2 separate regions of the Homo sapiens genome follow, and region 2 is linked to region 1. Evidence: fine-mapped expression QTL. Tissue or cell type: whole blood. Region 1 holds a variant in brackets; the other region holds the start of a gene. All regions are shown on one strand. Distances are between the middles of the regions.

Region 1 (8,171 bases):
CGAGCACTTTCTCAACCTGCTCCTGCCTGGCATGCTCTGCTTCCTACTCCCCCTGTCTGGCACCTTCCCTCCTTCCCCTGCCTGGCATCCTCTCCCTCCTTCCCCTACCTAGCACCTTCCCATCATTCCCCTGCCTGGCACCTTCTCTGTCTCCACTTGGCCACCGTCTTCCCTGGATACCCCTCTCCTATTCAGGTTGTCCCTCTGTCCCCCACCTTCTTGCAGGGCACCTCCCCCCCGACCCTGGACTGGTAGCCCCTCCCCTACCGCATCTTCCTCTCCTCATCCTCCCCTCCCACTCTGTCTCCCGGACCCCACCAGCTCTCCCATCCCCAGCACTCCCTGTCTCCAGCCTCCTCCTTCCTCATCCCCTTTCCTCCCAACCCTGCTCAGGATTGATCCATGGGCAGCAGCCTCTTTTGCTCACATGGCTTAACCAGACCCTGAGCCACTCCCAAGCCCCACCTCTGTCACCCACACCCCGCTCCTACAGCACTGCTCTCTTCTTAGCTCCCATGCCCCACCGTCTGCTCAGGGACTTCATTTCATAAGTTGGGTCCTGACCCAACGAGCTGGAGGCCTTCCTGCTCTTCCAGCAAGGAAGGAAGCAGGGCAGGACAGGACAGAGCAGGCACTAGCAGGGACCAGGAGGGAGGCGCCTAGGCCAGCTGGTAGTCATGGAGCAGGCTGACTACCTGCCTGCCACCTCTGGAGTCCCTCCATGCCCCTGGGCTCCAGGGCCATCCCAGTTACCATCCTGACCTGCCCTCTGGCCTTTGCCTCCAATGCCCAGCTCTCTCCCTCCAACCATTGCCACACCCCCAAAACTGGCCTCTCCAGTCAGGGCTTGGGCTCTGCCTGGGGTCCCTGCTCTGTCTTTCAAGTTCTTTGTCCCGCAGGACCCTGGGGCCGGTCTCTGTCTGCTTCCCACACATACTGCTCCCACCTGCGCCCTGCCTTGTGCCACCCCAGCCCCAGCTGGCCCATGCTGGTTGCCTCCATCCTAGGCCCTTTTTTCTGCACAGTGTCCTGGCTTCCTCAGACCTCCACTCCGGGGAGTTTGGCTTCTTCGCAGCTTCCCGAGGCCTCCTTGAATCTACGCTGGGGCTCAGGGTCTGACCTCTCCTTTCAGATCCTCAGAATGGCCCTTGGTGCTGCAGGCGCGGTGGGCTCCGGGCCCAGGCACCGAGGGGGCACTGGATGACTCTCCAGGTGCAGGACCCTGCCATCTATGACTCCAGGTCTTCAGCACCCACCCACCGTGGTACAGGTAGGTGCTTCCTCCCCTGCCAGCCCAGGAGCAGAAGCTCTGGGGCCCCATGGCGAGTCGGCCAGCCCTCGGCTCCTGCTCCCACCACATGGCCCCCTCCCGGCATTTCTGCCCCCAGCTGGACTCCTTAGTGCCCATGGCAGGGCCTCTCTGTCCCTCTCCCCACCCCTGCTGACACCTGTCATTAATGTCCTTCCCTCCATCCCACACTCCCTTTCCTGCGTGTCCTCTCACCTCCTGGTGTCCTTAGGTCCTGCCTCTCAAAGCCTTTCTGAGCCAGGGACAAGCTACCTGAAACCAAGTTTTGGGTTCATGTGAGCATGGTCTGGGCTCTGGCATGCTCTACTTCCTCCCCACCTAGACAGCCAGACAACACCCCATCTCCTCTCACTGCGTACATGAAGAAGCGTGCACATACGTGCACATGCTCACATGCACACACACCACATGCTCTCTGCGAGCTGGAAGGAACCTGCTGATTCCTTGGCACAACTTGTGCTCAGAAACCTCTAAAAACCCTCAGGGCCCCAGGCAGGGTTCCGCTTGTGGCAGGAGGGAGGTGGCAGCCGTCTACTGCACAGCCCGCAGTGGGAGCCAACCCTGCCCTGCCCCAGGCGGACCTCTAGCTCTGATGCACTCTGGGCCATTGCTTGCTTGTAGGGCCTTCCTAAGCCTCCTCCTCAAGGAGTGAGAGGAAGATGGTCTGCATTTGTCCGCATCAGTCCCCACTTGTCCAGAAGGACACACTGAGGCTCTGGGCAGAAAAGCCACCTGCCCCAGAGCCCCAGCTGGCATGGTAAGGGGTCGGAACTGAAGTCTGGTCTGAGCTCTGCCTGCCCAGCCCCACCCATCATCACGCTGGCTGGCCTCACCGGTGGGAGGCACCTGGCAACAGGGTGGGTACTGGCAGGGCCTCAAGGTATGTGGAGCCCAGTCCCTGTCCTCAGGGCCTGCGGCCTTGGAGAGCAGCCTTGACAATTGGGCACAAAGGGCCACAGACCACACAGGCCTCAGAGCACTGAGGAGGGAGACATCAGGAAAGTCCTGGAAAGGTGCAATTGGAAATGGCCCAGAGGAGCCTGAGGCTCGGGGAGGCCTGGGGCTGTGGGCAGAATGAAAGTGCTTTCTCTGCTTCTCCTTCCTCAGAAGTGGGCAGAGGAACTCATCCTCCTGCCAGGCTGCTCTGAAGGCCAGGGACAGCCCCGTTCCCCTTCAAACTGCCCCAGTGCCCCTCCTCCTCCAGTGAGGTGCAGGCCCAGGGCAAAATGGGGCAGGGCACCGGCTTTTGGGGAAGCTGGCCTGGCCCAGAGGATCCAAGCCACACAGGGCAGCAGCAGGCACCAGTCACCTGGTACCCATCACCAAGGAAACACACCTGGTGGCGGCATGCCCAGCCCCACACCTGAAGCCCCAGTCCACCTGCAGGAAAGTCAAGGCCTCCAAGCAAACGTCCCACCCTTATCCCCAACACCTCCCCAGCACCTGAGGTGAACTGGGGACTGGTTGCTCAGTTTGTGGTGGTTGGTGTTTTAGCTGAAATTCATAAAGAAAAGGTGAGAACTAGTATATTAAACCAAGCACTCTACAGTTCTGGGGTGTCTGAGGTTAGAGGCCAGGTTGAACGGGGGGCAGGCTGATGGGAGGCAGCTAAGCTTCCTGGAGGGGTGCACCTGAAGTGGTCCCCCACGTGGAGAGTCCTCCTAATATTTGACATGCCCTTCGTTAGGCCCTAAGGGGCTCCCCAGCAGCAGTCGGAGGGAGCCTTGGGCTGTTCCAGACCTTTCCTGAAGGGTCACTGCAGGATGGGCACAGGGGAAGGAGGGCAGAGGAGGCCTGTGAAGATTGGAGCTGGAGCCCTGGGGCAGTAGGTCCATCCTAGTGACACCTGGCCCCAGAGTGACCCTGGCCATGAGTCAGAAGCCCCAGCTCCAAGAGTGACAAGGTGGTGGAAGTTTGGCATCTTATCTTGGAGTTGCATTCACATGCAATCGGCGGTGTGCGTTGCAGGCTCTTGGCAGCCAGGCAGGCACTTGGGCATTTGGATGCTGACAGGCCCTGGTGCTGGTGCCTAGGCGTCCGTCCTCACCCCAAAACTGGCGGTGTGACTGCAAGTGAGTGCTCATGATTAGTGAAAATTAAGTGGTGGAGATAATGAGCTAGAGGTGTCACTGGGAGGAGGCTGAGCCACCCATCGGGGATGAGTGGACTTCCCTCAGCTGTGGCTGGACTCCTAACCATCTGGAATTGCTGTACCAGAGGGGCCAAGCTGAGGCCACCGCCTGCCTCTGACGGGTACTTGGCTGAGGGACATCTTGTAGGGACCATTGCTGTGTCCCCCTGTGCTCCTTGCTAATGAGGGGTGTGGGAATCCTTGGTGACTCATAAAGGACCGTAGAGGAGGGCTGATCACTTCAGCCAGGCCCACATTTTGGGATAGCGCGTTCGGTTTCTTGACTTTCCAAGCTGTGACACCGATTCTTGGCACTCTACACTTACTTCCAGGGATTTGAGAACGTGCCTCATGAGCGTGCGCCCCACACAGGCCTCCTACTGCAACTTACAAACTTGGACCATCTCCCATGTGAACCTTTTTCCCAGACTGAAGATCGTTCTGGGAAAATGCCCTAGAGTGAGGGACACTGTGCCATAAGGGAGGGAGAGGAAGACACAGGGAGGTGTTCTTATGCTCCGCCTCATCCTGAAAAGGGTTTCAGGTAGTTTGCAAAGATACATATAGTGAGGAAACTGAGACAGAGATAGAGTAGAGAAAACATGGTGTTGCCTAGGATGTGGCTACTGCACCAAATGCAAACCACGAGGCCCAGAGACCCCGATGCCAGCAGAGAAGCAAGCAGTTACATGATTTACACTGTGCATGAGATAAAAATCAAACAACTTGCTCAAATCACGTGATTTCTGGTCCCGAGCCACTGGGAGGTCTCTCCTGTATGAGGAAATGAAGG[G/C]GATACCATGTGACAAAGTTATGCAATGTTCTCAACAATGTCACAACTGCTTCCTAGGGCTAAGGCAAGGACCAACACAATACTCCCCAGCCATAAACCTACTGGTAATATTGCTTAACCCAAACTTAAAATTTGGAGCAACTAGAGGAATGCATTGCTACCTTCAGGAAATACCCTCTTTCTCTTTTGTAAGAGACAGAGTCTCACGCTGTTGCTCAGGCTGGAGTGCAGTGGTGTGATCATGGCTCACTGCAGCCTCCAACTCCTGGGCTCAGGCGATCCTGCTTTAGCCTCCTGAGTAACTGGGACTACAAGCGTAAGCCACAATGCCCCCTAGCTTTTGTTTGTTTTGTTTTTATTTTAGTAGAGATGAGGTCTCACTATATTTCCTAGGCTGGTCTCAAATTCCTGGGCTCAAGCAATCCTCCCACTTCAGCCTCCCAAAGTGTTGGGAGGCATGAGCCATCGAGCCTGGCCAGGAAATACTCTCTATATTGATATTTACAACAATGTTTCTGATAAATATCAGGCAGCAGGAAGGTTTATTTAAAATTGGAAATTAAGTACAGAGTCACATTCTCCAGGTAGGGGTAATATCCTTATAGGAAATAAAGAGCTCCTTAAGCACACAGGCCCCACAGGTGAGTTTGGGTATGAGGAGGGACCAGTCCTGGTCTTTCCCCACAGGTCCTGAACCCATGGAAAAACAGGCACAGGCATCAGTTAACTTAAGTGCAAGGAAATTCAAGCTGAAGAGAGGCTTGAACCTGAGGCCCAAGTGTAGAAGGCAGGTCCTACTCCCTAACCTGGGTTTGCTTACCTGGGCATGGGAACAGAAGGAGATGATCTGTGTCCTAAAACAGACTCGTCTAGAAGAGGAATGCTGGCCACAGGGTAAGCAGCCTTGCCTTCAGCACCTTCACCCCACCCGCCTGGGAAAGGGATTGTGCGGCTGGTGCAGGCCCTCACCACCTCATCAGACAAAGCCTCCTCCCACAGGGAGGAAGGGTGGGGAGAGGGCCAGGGTCATTCCAGTATCTCCTCTCCTGGGAATACAGTACATGTTTCCTTGTGAACACATGAAGACAAGGGAGTAGGGCCCCTCTGCAGTGGGGTGGATGGGCCACATTGCTAAACAGTGATATTGAGGCTCAGGTCCAGACCTGAAGTGACCAAGTCCACCCCCTTTCTTACCTCTCCATTGGAACAACTGCCACATCCTTTTATTTGATTTTATTTCCTAGATAAGTGTCAATTCCATCTGCTTCTGATTTCCCACGTCACTGCCCTGGTCCACACACTGTGATCTTCTGCCCCCATCTGAGTGCCGCATACTCAGCCTTGTCCCTGCATCAGACCCCGGCCCAGCACAGTAACGAGAATGGGCTTCCTAAACACAAATCTGATTTGTTCCGCCTTCCACTTCCTAGTGGCTTCATTCTCGTGCCCTCACTCAGGGCCCTCACACATGCTGTTCCCTGCACCTCCGACACCCTTCCCAGCTCCCTTCACCTGGCTAACTGCACTCATCCTTGAAGCCTCCACGTCAGTTCCACCTCTTCCAGGGAGGCTTTCTCCCACCCGGCTTGGGCGTGAAGGCCCACCCACTCTCTTCTGTCTTGCAGCACCTACCAAAGAGGCTAATACTGAGTTGCAGGGCTCCTTAAAGGCATGGCTGCATCTGTCTTGTTCCACACAGTACAGAGAAGTATTTCTTGAATGAATGAGCAAATGTGTGAGGCAGTGGACAGAGAGGGGGTGGCTCTACGGCTGATTCTAAAATGAGCCCCAGATCCCTCTTGGTGCTGTCAGCCTCACCCTCTCTACACCACCACGATGCAAGAGTGGGCCTTTCTTGCCTGCCAACCTTGTCCTGCTGTCGCCTGAGCTGCCCTGTGCCCCGCGTCTCCCTCCTGTAACTCCGTGGTTGGAGGAGTGCTCCATGCTCATTCCCTCTTCAGTTATTCCTATGGTGAGGGAGAATGTCACTCCCTCTGACCTTGGGTTTGCCTTTTGGAGTTGCAGGGAGAAACCCCTTTCTCCCTCCAAGCCATCTGACCACCTTTCAACATTTGGAGGCAGCTTTCGCACAGGCTCTGTCTCCGCTCGGAACATCCAGCTCTGGCTCTTTCAAATATTCCCAGCCTTCGTGCCCCCTGGGGAGCGCTGAAGATCCCCCAAGGCCATGGCCCACACTTGGAGCCACCTGTGCCTGTGCTAGAAGGTGAGCTCTCCCTTTCCAGCCAGGCAGATGGGGAAGGGGTACTCAGTTTTCTGAGTGACATGTCTCATCTGTAGAATGGGACATCATGCCCTTCTATAAAGAAGCAATGGTGATGGCGGACCTTCTGCACAATGCCTGCGTTCACCGAGCGCCCCTCGCCACTGCAAGTGTTCACATGGGATGCTGAGCGCTGTCCCTGCTCCAGGTGTCATCTGTGGACCCCAGAGCACCATCTAATGCCACCGATGCCTCCCTTGGTTGCAGGTCCCAGCCTGCCATTCATGCTGCCCGCATACGCCACTGGCCACCACCCAGACACGCAGAAGTCCATTCTTCCTGTTCCATATCTGTCAGCCCCAACATGGAGCTATCTTAGCTTTAGCCCATCTTTCCAGCCCACAGCTCCCATCCAGCCTGATGCAGTCTGCAGGTGTGAAAGGCCTGTCTTCTTTGCCTTTCATAAAGTTTTTAATTGGAAAAAAGAAAAAGTGAGCCAGCAGGGCGCAGGAGAGAGCCCTGTGGTCCCTGGAGATGGCTCAGGGTGGGCCGGCAGCTGAATCCACAGCAGGGGACTCGAGGGTGTGTAGGCTTGAAGGAGGTGCTGGTGGGTCGGAAGGTGTCCCCCGTGGGGGCCTAAGTAGATGCAAGAGAAGCTGAGCTCCAGCTTCAGGTCTACAGCACCCACTCCACTCTGCCCAGCAGGAAGCAGCACTGTGCTTTTGCCTTTTCCTGCCTCAGTTTCCCTTCTAACTCCCCCTTCACCATCACCTCACTTGCATCTTACCCAGGCCTCTTCCTTCAAAAGAAAAGTCTGTCTTTGAGACACTTTAGATCCATTCAGTGGGCAGGGATGTCTCCCCCTGCCACCTGCCATCACAGCCCCCACCTCAGATTCAAGAACAGCTGCCACAAACACAGTGACCTGCAGGAAGTGAAAGAGTGAAGTGACTGGGGGCAGAGTAATAGCAGCCAGTAAAGACTGAGGGATCATTGTGGGCTTTGAGAACTATTTCAAGAATTTTAGGCCAGTCGCAGTGGTTCATGCCTGTAATCTCGGCACTTTGGGAGGCCAAGGCAGGAAGATCGCCTGAAGCCAGGAGTTCAAGACCAGCCTGGGCAACAAAGCGAGACCTCATCTCTACATTAAAAAAAAAAGAGAGAGAATTTTGTGTGGTTTAATTTATCCTAACCACAACACTATAAGGTAAGTGCTGTTATAATCATCATCCTCTCCAGATAAGGAAACTGAGGCACAGGGCATGAAGGAACTTTCCCAGTGGTCAGGGCAAGAGTCCCAACTGGGGTCTCTCCACCATATTTAGCCCTCAGAAATTTGCTGTGCCCAAACCTCAGGGGCCCTCACAGAGACAAGACAGCCACCCCTTTATTCAGGGTCTCAACCCAGCCCCTCCTCTTTTGCCCCCAGCACTGAGGCTCAAGGTCAAAGGCCATTTATCATCTCACACACAGCCTGTTCCACTCATTGACTTTCACTGCTGTGTCCCTAGGGTCATTTGAGTTTGTAACCCCTAAAATAGGGAATGGGGAGGAGATGTGGCAAATCGGAGGGCTCTCGCCCCTCTGAAAAGGGGCAGCCCCTCCTCAGCTCCACCCGATTGTCTCTAAATGGACTGGTGGTCTGGTCTTGCCAAATTTCTCATTTTTTAAGAGATTCTGGAAATCTGGCTTTGATGTGAAATCTCTCAGTCTTTAA
Region 2 (8,171 bases), 24 kb after region 1:
CCAGCCCCTTCTTCCATGTTCCCCGCTCTCCTGCTCCTCCTGCCGCGCCCCCCGAGCGGAGTCCCCGTGGTGGGACCTTCACGGAGGGCAGGAGGGCGGGACTGCGGCTGGGGCCCGGCCTAGGTGGCCATCTTCCCGCAGGGAAGGAGTTAAGTCTCTTCCCCGCATCCCTCCTCCCTCCGCCGCCTCCCCGGCCGCCGCGGAGTCCTGCAGCTGGGCCCCGGGCTGACCTTCACCGGGAGGGAGGCCGCGGCGCGCATGCCCAGGCCGGGGACCGGCGCGGGCGGAGGGAGGGGCGGCGCGGGCCGGGCCGGCCCGAGCCCCCCCAGCTCCCCGGCCGCCGCCCGCTCGCTCGGGCGCGGTGGGGGCGAGGCGGCCGAGCCCGTCCCGCAGGCCGCGGCGCATCTCTCCCTGCGCGGGGAGCGGCGCTTTGCCATTTGGTGCTGGTGGTGCTTCAGCGAGGGAAGGAGCGATGGGGGGACGGCAGGGGGGACTGCGGCGCCGGGCGCCGGGCGGCCGCCCTCGCCCCCGACAGGCGCACGGCCTGCCCCAAGTGCGGCGGGCGCCCTATTGCGCTGGGAGGAATCCACGCTCTTCCCGGGCCTCCTTCCCACCCGCAGGAGCCATCGGCGGCGTGGCACACCGAGCGCCCTTCTGGGGTTAAGCCACTGGGGATCCTGGCCTTTGTGAGGAGGGAGCCCTGGCCCGGGCCCCCACACTGGCGCCGCCCCAGCTTTCTGGTCTGAAGGCTCCTCCTGTCGCCCACCTAAAAGCAGTACGCAAATGTGTCTGGGCCTGCCTTGTGAATGGGGCCCACCACGGGATGTGGAGGTGCTCAAGGTGTGCCTGTGTGTGCAGAGCCATGTGGCTTCCTCGACCTTTTGGTGCTTGTATTGGTGTGCCTGCTGTGTGTGTGTTGGGAGGGTGTGTGTGCAAGGTGTATCTATTGTCTGTGTACACTTAAGGATGTCTCCCAGAGGGGTGGCTCAGGAGAGCGCTTATGTATGGACTTGGGTGAAGCTCACCAGCTCCTCCACAGGGGCTTCACCATAGCCCCTCGTCTAACTACCTCCCGCAACCTCTTCCACCACCAAGACCAAGCCCGGGATCTCCCAGGCCCTGCCTCAAACTTCCCAGCTACCCAAACTGGAGTGCCCAGCATCTCCTCTGCTGTCTTCTTTTCCCAAAAGGTCTCTCCAATAGTTGAGAACACTGAGCTTTAACAAAGCCTAGGGGTGTCTATCTCCAACCCCCAGAACCTCCAAGGCCTGTGGTTTCCCATGCCCCTGCTAGACGCACCCATGGTGGGTGGGGGTGCCCATGGTAACTCACACCATCAGGTAAATGGCAGAGTACCAGCTCCATGCATTGGCTCATTAAGCTTTGCAAGCATCAGGTATCTGGGGTACTGTTGAGTTCCTGTGCCCAGGCATGGAGGAAGAGTGGGAGTTAAAGATCAGTCTCTGACCTTATGGGGACCTTAGCCTCTCTGGGAAAGCAAAGCTAATGTCCTTGAAGCACAGTGCACGTCAGGCCAGTCCAATGCCAATTCATGGTGCTGGGTAGATGGCAATGAGCATTTGGAGAAGAGAAAAATCTTTGCATACAAGTAGGACGAAGGAAGGCTTCCTGGAGGAAGTGGGGCCTGGGCTGGGCTTTAAAGAATAGGTGTGATTTGGACAAGCAGAGGGAAGGCAGAGGGCAGGCAAAGGGCATTCCAGGTAAAAGAATCGGGGGCAGGGGCTAAGAAATGGGAGTGAGCGGGGATTCTGGAGGTTAGCAGGCAGACTGGGCAAGTCACTTCCCCAGGTTCCCAGCAGCATGACCTATGGCAGACAGAGGCAGGCCACCCACCCATCCCCACCGTGTCAGGGCCCAGGCTCTGTGTGTGGGGGTGTGTGGGGGGTAGTCTAGGCTAAAGCCCTGGGAGAGATTTGGTAGCAAGGGGATCTCTAGGTCCCCTTTCAAGCTAGGGGTGGTGGAGGAGCAACCTGGACCAGATGTCCTCCCTGACATTTCAGATTGACAGTGGGCACCTAAATGAACAGTGACAGCCAAGAGCACAACCAGGGCCAGCAGAAATCAGGCTGCAGGCAGAAAGGACCCCCTGGGCAAAGGCATTCTGAAGGGTTTAGGGTCAGTACCCTTCAGTCTTCAGGGCCCAACTTCAAGTAAGTGTTTCAACAAACTCCCCTAGGCACTAGGCTATGGTCCTGCCCTCACCTGGATTCTCACAGTGAGGCCCCAGCAGACCCCCAAACTTGACCCAAGGGCCTTGTTCCAAAGCCCACGGCTCCTCCCCAAGAAGGAGAAAAAAGGGGCGTGGCCTTTGGGGACCTGGGTAGGCCCAGGACTCCCTGCCTGGGTATGTCAGGATTTGCCCCTCCTCCTTCCGGTCCCTCCTCCACTCCAGGGACTGCCAACTCCTTCCACACGCCCCTTCTGGGGCTCCCTTGCCACCCCACGCCACACCCCAGCCTCAAGACCCCTCTCTTTGGGGTCTTGAGGCCGGCCCAATATACCCACTATACCCAGCCCAGCTGCCCCAACTCCTCTGGGTCCCCTAACCCCACTCCACCCCCACCCCAAGGAAACCAAGCCCAGCTTGCCTCGTTCTCTCCACGCACCCACCCGAGCACCCCCCTGGCGCTGCGCCATTCCCCACATTCATTCTCTTCCTGTTCTCATGAGCACAATCCCTGTCCCTCTTTCTGAAATACTTCCCCTATTGCCCTCACTTTCTCACAGAGCGGCAAACAAAGACTCACATACCCAGAAATAGCCTCTCACAGAGCTGAAAGGCACAGGCCATGTCCTGCCACACACGCAGGCGCGCGCGCACGGAGGCTGTCGTGGAGGGAGGCACACATACAGGGCGTCTGTCTGCACGCACATAAGCTGCCACGCCACAAAAGGGCGCGGACACACACGGCGTGTGAGACAAGGGCACACACAGCAGTGGACGCAGGGCCACGCCGCCGCCCGGGCACACCCACCGCCGCCGGCCCCGGGCAGGCGCGAGGCCTCGCGGGCCGGGCTCCCCCGGTTCCTGCCAGCGAATGTTTCCCTGCTCGGCCTGCCAGGTCTCTGGGGAAAGGGCCTCAGAAATGCAGCAGGAGCCGCTGGGGGAAAAGTTGGAACTGACTGTTCCCTGCCTGGCGCGGCCGGCGAATTCCCTGACGGAGAAACTATTTGTGGCGAGAGCCGGTGGCCGGCGACCCCCCGCCGCCTCCCCTGGCGTCCCCTCCCCGCGCCGCCTCCCGCGGGCCTCGGCGGCTTCGGGCTGCAGCACTGCTGCCCAGCGCCCGCGGCCGGGCTGGTCGGCGCGCCTCGCCGCTTATCTGCGCTGTTTGGACAGCGGGCTTGGAAAGGCAGGCGGCCCCGTCCCCGCCGAGTCAACAGGCAGACCCCGGGCCGCCGGACTATTTCTGTCTTATCAGTGCAGGAATGCGGCAGCCGCGGCGGCGGCGGCGGCGGCGGGCGGGCGGCGGCGGCGTGGGCCGTGGGCCGTCAGGGCAGCCCTGAAGGGGCCCCCTCCCCACTCCGCTCGAGTAGAAGTGTGAGAGAGCCCAGCAGGACTCAGAGGGGAGAGTTGGAGGAAAAAAAAAGGCAGAAAAGGGAAAGAAAGAGGAAGAGAGAGAGAGAGTGAGAGGAGCCGCTGAGCCCACCCCGATGGCCGCGGACGAAGTTGCCGGAGGGGCGCGCAAAGCCACGAAAAGCAAACTTTTTGAGTTTCTGGTCCATGGGGTGGTGAGTGGGGGAAAGTTAGCGGGGGAGGGCAAGCGAGCTGGCTCGGGCTGAATGGAGGGCTGATCGGGAGGGGCCGGGAGGGCGCTCCCGCTCTCCCACCCCTCTAGTGGGGGGCGTCATGGCCCACGGCCCGGCCGCGGGACTGTGCTGGCGCCCTGGCACCCGAACACGTCGCCAGGCGGCCGGCCGGGTCTGACGCGAGGCGGGGAAGGGAGGCGTTTGCATGGCTCTTGTCAGGGGCGGGGGTGGGACTTGGGGACTCTACCCCCCAAGTAGGGGGTCCTCGCTGTAGCCGACAGGTTGACTTTCGTTCTTTTCCTTGTGGGCCCAGGTGTTGCCCCTGCCCTGGGGGTGGGGGTGGGGGATGGGGACATGGCAGAGGCTGGGCTGGGCTGTCTGTTCATCCGTTGGGACAGTGTCACTGCTTGTGTCTCCGGAGCAAGGAGCAGGTGACCCTGGAGGCACTGTAGCGGGAAGCTCGCAGGCTGAGCCACCTCTGCATCCCAGCGGGAGGGCTCTGGAGCTTCTGCCTTAGGGTGGGGGAGAGGACCGCTCTAGGGACTTAGCCCAAGTTAGGGGCTCTGAGGGTCTCCTTGGCGGACTCAGCCACCAGAAGCTGATGTCCTTAACTCCTCGAACATGTGAAGGAAGGGGCTGGAGTTGGGGACATGAGGCCTAGAGACCGAAGGGACAGGGGAGCACTGTCCTGCCACAGGCAGGCTGTGAAGGCACGTGGGAGCCCGGGAGGCTGGAGCTGAGTCAGTAGGGCCCGGCTGGGAGGGGTATGGAGGGGTGGGGAATGGGAGAAGCAGGGGCTGCGACTCTTGGGATGGGTGAGGGAGTGGAGGCCCTGTGTAGAGGAAGCTGTCGGGTTTACTATGGCCAAATTTGGTTGTGACCCCAAGGAAGACACCCTCTCAGTAAGGCCAGAGTCCCTAGGATTTTGGCCTTTCATGGGGATGGGGCTGGTGGCGGGCACAGCTCTCTGGGGGCTCTGAAAGCCTCCCTCTCAGGGCCTCTTCAGCAGATGGGCCAGTATCCCTGGCCTTGATAACTGGGGAGAGCAGCTGACAGGAAGAGGGGGACTCCCTGGAGTGGCCTGTCCTCCAGCCCCAGGGACCCCTGGGGGTAACTTCCCAAGGTGTCCATGTCAGCTAGCTGAGTTACCAGTCCTAACCTGGCTGCTGGTGGGAGCCCCTTTAAAAAGGCCCATCTAGTGGGGAGAGGCTGTACACGTGGACTGTTTTTTTAATCTGGTCAACTTACAGCTTCAGTTCTTGAGTGGCTGTGAGCCCCAGTGCCCCACCTAGCTGGTGGCCAGGCCTGGGCTCCATTCTGGGCTGCTACCCTGGAGGCCTGAGTGACAGGGTCAGGTGGGGTGAGGGAAGCAGACACATGGACAGGCAGGTTTCACTGCAGGAGAGATAGGCAGAGACAGCTGCTGACCGAGGGTGGGAGGACATTAGGGTTAGACACAGAGCCTGGAGGACCAGGAGGGAGAGGTAGCAGTTGGAAGGAAAACAGCAAGCCCAAGGGGGCCCCTCCTCATGCCTGGGGGTGAGGTGGGTGGTGTGTCCATGTTAACAGTGCCAGGGTCTGCATCCCCTGCCCTCTGATCTTCTTCCTGCTTTCGTGGTCCCAGTCCCCATCCCACCCCGCTCTTTCTGTTTCACAGCCCCTGAAACTCTCTCTGGCCCTCCCCATCTCCCTTCTGGAGTCTGGACAAGTGGGGTTTGGAACACTTCGCTCGATGCATTTGCATCTCATTTACACCCCATCTGACCACCCAGGGGTAGTGGCAAGGGAGGAGGAGCCGCCTCCTCTCAGTCTCCACAGCCCCCATGAACCCTGACTGCTGACCTCACTGGGGTGGGGATGGGAAGAGGAGGAGGTGGCTGCTGACCTGGGCAGACAGGAAGGGAAATGTGAGTGCAAGTGTCACTGCCCTGACCCACCCCAGGCCCCCCTGGGCAGCCCACCTCTAACGCAGTTCCCCTCCTCCCAATCAGAGAATCCTGGCTGTGTCTGGGGCGCCCCAGCAGGCTGCCCTTGCCTGCCCTGCCTCCAGCCCTCACCCTGGGAGCAAATTATGGGGGCAGCTTGGTCAGCGAAGACCCTGGATGTGGGGACTTGGAGTCAGCCGAGGGGAGTGGGGTTTGGGACCCAAGGGTCAAAAGCAGGGACACAGGGAGCAGAGTGGCTGAGATGAGCTAGTGAGTACCAGGCAGAACCGCCCAAGAAGTGGAGCCTGAGAAGGAGGAGCAGGAGGAGGAGCAGAAGTCGGAGCAGGGAGCCGGGTACCGGACCTCAACCAAGCCGCAGAGAGCAAAGCCCTGGGCCCCCAGGAGGCAGCCCTTCAGGGGCTGCCTGGGCCAGGATGAGCTGTGTGACCTTGGCGAGGTCATTTTTCTCCTTGAGCCACAGTGGCCCCATCCGTCAAGTGGGGATGAAAGGACCTGCTCAGGCTGTCTTGCAGAGGAGCATGTGGATGTGAACATCTTTGAAAGGTTGAAAGGCGCCATTAATATTCATTTTTGCGGTACCTTCCGCAGCCCCGAGGCTCGCAATGCCCTGTGCGGTGCCTGGCTTCAGTTAGCTTCCTGCAGCCAGACGCCAAGCCCCTCCGCCAGAGCCGCGCAGATTCCGGCGCCCCTGCCCCTCCTACCCATCGCTCCCACCCATCGCTCAACGCTCAGGGTCACCAGCCGAGGGTCTGGTGGGGGAGGGGAGACGCCGGCTCACCGCGCCTGGAGCGGGGGGCCCTGGTCTGACCCACGGGCGCCCGTTTCTGCTTCACCCCCGCCCACCCCCAGCGCCCCGGGATGCCGTCTGGAGCCCGGATGCCCCACCAGGGGGCGCCCATGGGCCCCCCGGGCTCCCCGTACATGGGCAGCCCCGCCGTGCGACCCGGCCTGGCCCCCGCGGGCATGGAGCCCGCCCGCAAGCGAGCAGCGCCCCCGCCCGGGCAGAGCCAGGCACAGAGCCAGGGCCAGCCGGTGCCCACCGCCCCCGCGCGGAGCCGCAGGTGAGTGGGAGGCCCGGCGAGGAGGGGGCGTGCAGGGGCGGGCCCTGGGGGACCCGCAGGGACCAGGTAAGCGAGTAGCGGGGATTGGAAGGGGCGAGGAAGAATGATTAGCAGGGAGCGAGGCTTCCCGGGTCGAATGCCCTCTGGGGAGGTAGGCTTAGGGGGCACCGGCCTGATTCTTTTGTGTGCCCACGGTAGAGACAGGCTGCGGCGTCGGCAGCCGGTACCGCTTCCCTGCACGCTCCCCTCACCCTTCTCCTTGTCACCTGCTCAGTCCTTCTCTCCACCCATCAGGTTCTGGGTGATGCTTCAGTCTTTGGGGTGGGGGCGGGGCTTCCAGTGGGACTGAGGGCAGAGGTGTAGGACTGTGTTCCCCAAAGTGTGGTTCTCCGCTGAGCCTTCCTGCCGGCCCCCGGGCTGTTTCAAAGCCACTCCAGATTTTCTCAATGGGACTCTCTGACCATGGGGGTGGAGCTTGGGGATTTGCCCTGTGGGTAGGTGGTCTCTACCCAGTCCTGCTCTTAATTCTTAGGCACTCTGGCCCAGGTCTGCTCTCAAGCCACCAGGGCCAGCCCATTTCCTTGCTTTCCTCCAGCAGCTGGTGGCACCCTCAAAGCCCCTGCTGGCTCCTGGCAACAGCAGTGCCCCTCCGGGTTTCAGTATTTAGCCAAATACACATGCTTTTTTTGCACAACAGATGGGTTTCTATAAAAGGTGTAATATCAATTTTACCTCATTATTATTTTTTACACATCGGGGAAAAAATCACCACTTATAGGAATCCCATGATGAATTCTTTAGTAAAGTGCATCGTCATTTTGTACAGCAAATGGTAATTCCCTGATTTATCTTGTATAAATGGAGAGTTACACATAGATAATCTGTTTAAAACAAACCAGACCTTTAATGAAATCCGCTTGTTAGCCTTAGATTTCTGCATAGGGAGGGGGCAGTGCTTGAGAACACCACACGGGGGCAGTATGGAGCTATTCTCTGGGCTGCGTTTTCATCTCTTGACCCGCCAAGGTTTTTCTGGGGGTTTTTGGGTTAGTTAGAAGCAGCTAGTGGGTCAGAAAGAGCCCACATCCAGCTGCTACTACCCCGGGCCTAGTCAATTTGGCCTCAGCCTGAAGTCACACCCATGCACATTCTGGGCGCCTATGGCTGCAGCATGTCCCTCACCCTGTTGCCAGGTAGTCCCAGGGCATGAGTACCCCCAGCCCATCAGCGTTCTCTTCCAAGCCCAGGGTGGCTGGAAGGGGTGCAAGTCCCGCCAGCTTCACACCGTCACCTCCCGCTCCATGGATAGGAAGGAGTTCGTCTCTCTCCCTCCCTCTGAGCTTAGGCCCCTTTGGACAGGGCACCCCCTGCTTTCCAGAAAAGGTCTTCAGAACCT

Evidence for each region. PIP is the estimated chance that this variant, and not a neighbour inherited with it, causes the effect.
Region 2: SMARCD3 starts here. The variant in region 1 is fine-mapped to the expression of SMARCD3 in whole blood (TOPMed, PIP 0.99).

What each region holds. Positions count from the first base shown.
Region 1 is chr7:151,268,213-151,276,383 of GRCh38, reverse strand. It overlaps a transcript of SMARCD3 not described here. Among named protein-coding and RNA genes, the nearest start is that of SMARCD3, 24 kb to the right of the region's middle. RefSeq lists an enhancer at 915-1,714. The variant G/C (reference allele first, on the strand shown) is at 4,234.
Region 2 is chr7:151,244,064-151,252,234 of GRCh38, reverse strand. SMARCD3 (SWI/SNF related BAF chromatin remodeling complex subunit D3) reads left to right here and starts at 3,541. Exons shown (of 13, transcript NM_001003801.2): 1 at 3,541-3,750; 2 at 6,564-6,775. The coding sequence starts at 3,673. RefSeq lists enhancers at 1-20, 5,300-5,873, 5,874-6,448, 6,449-7,022, 7,023-7,597 and silencers at 2,881-2,970, 5,018-5,312, 6,387-6,466, 6,487-6,786.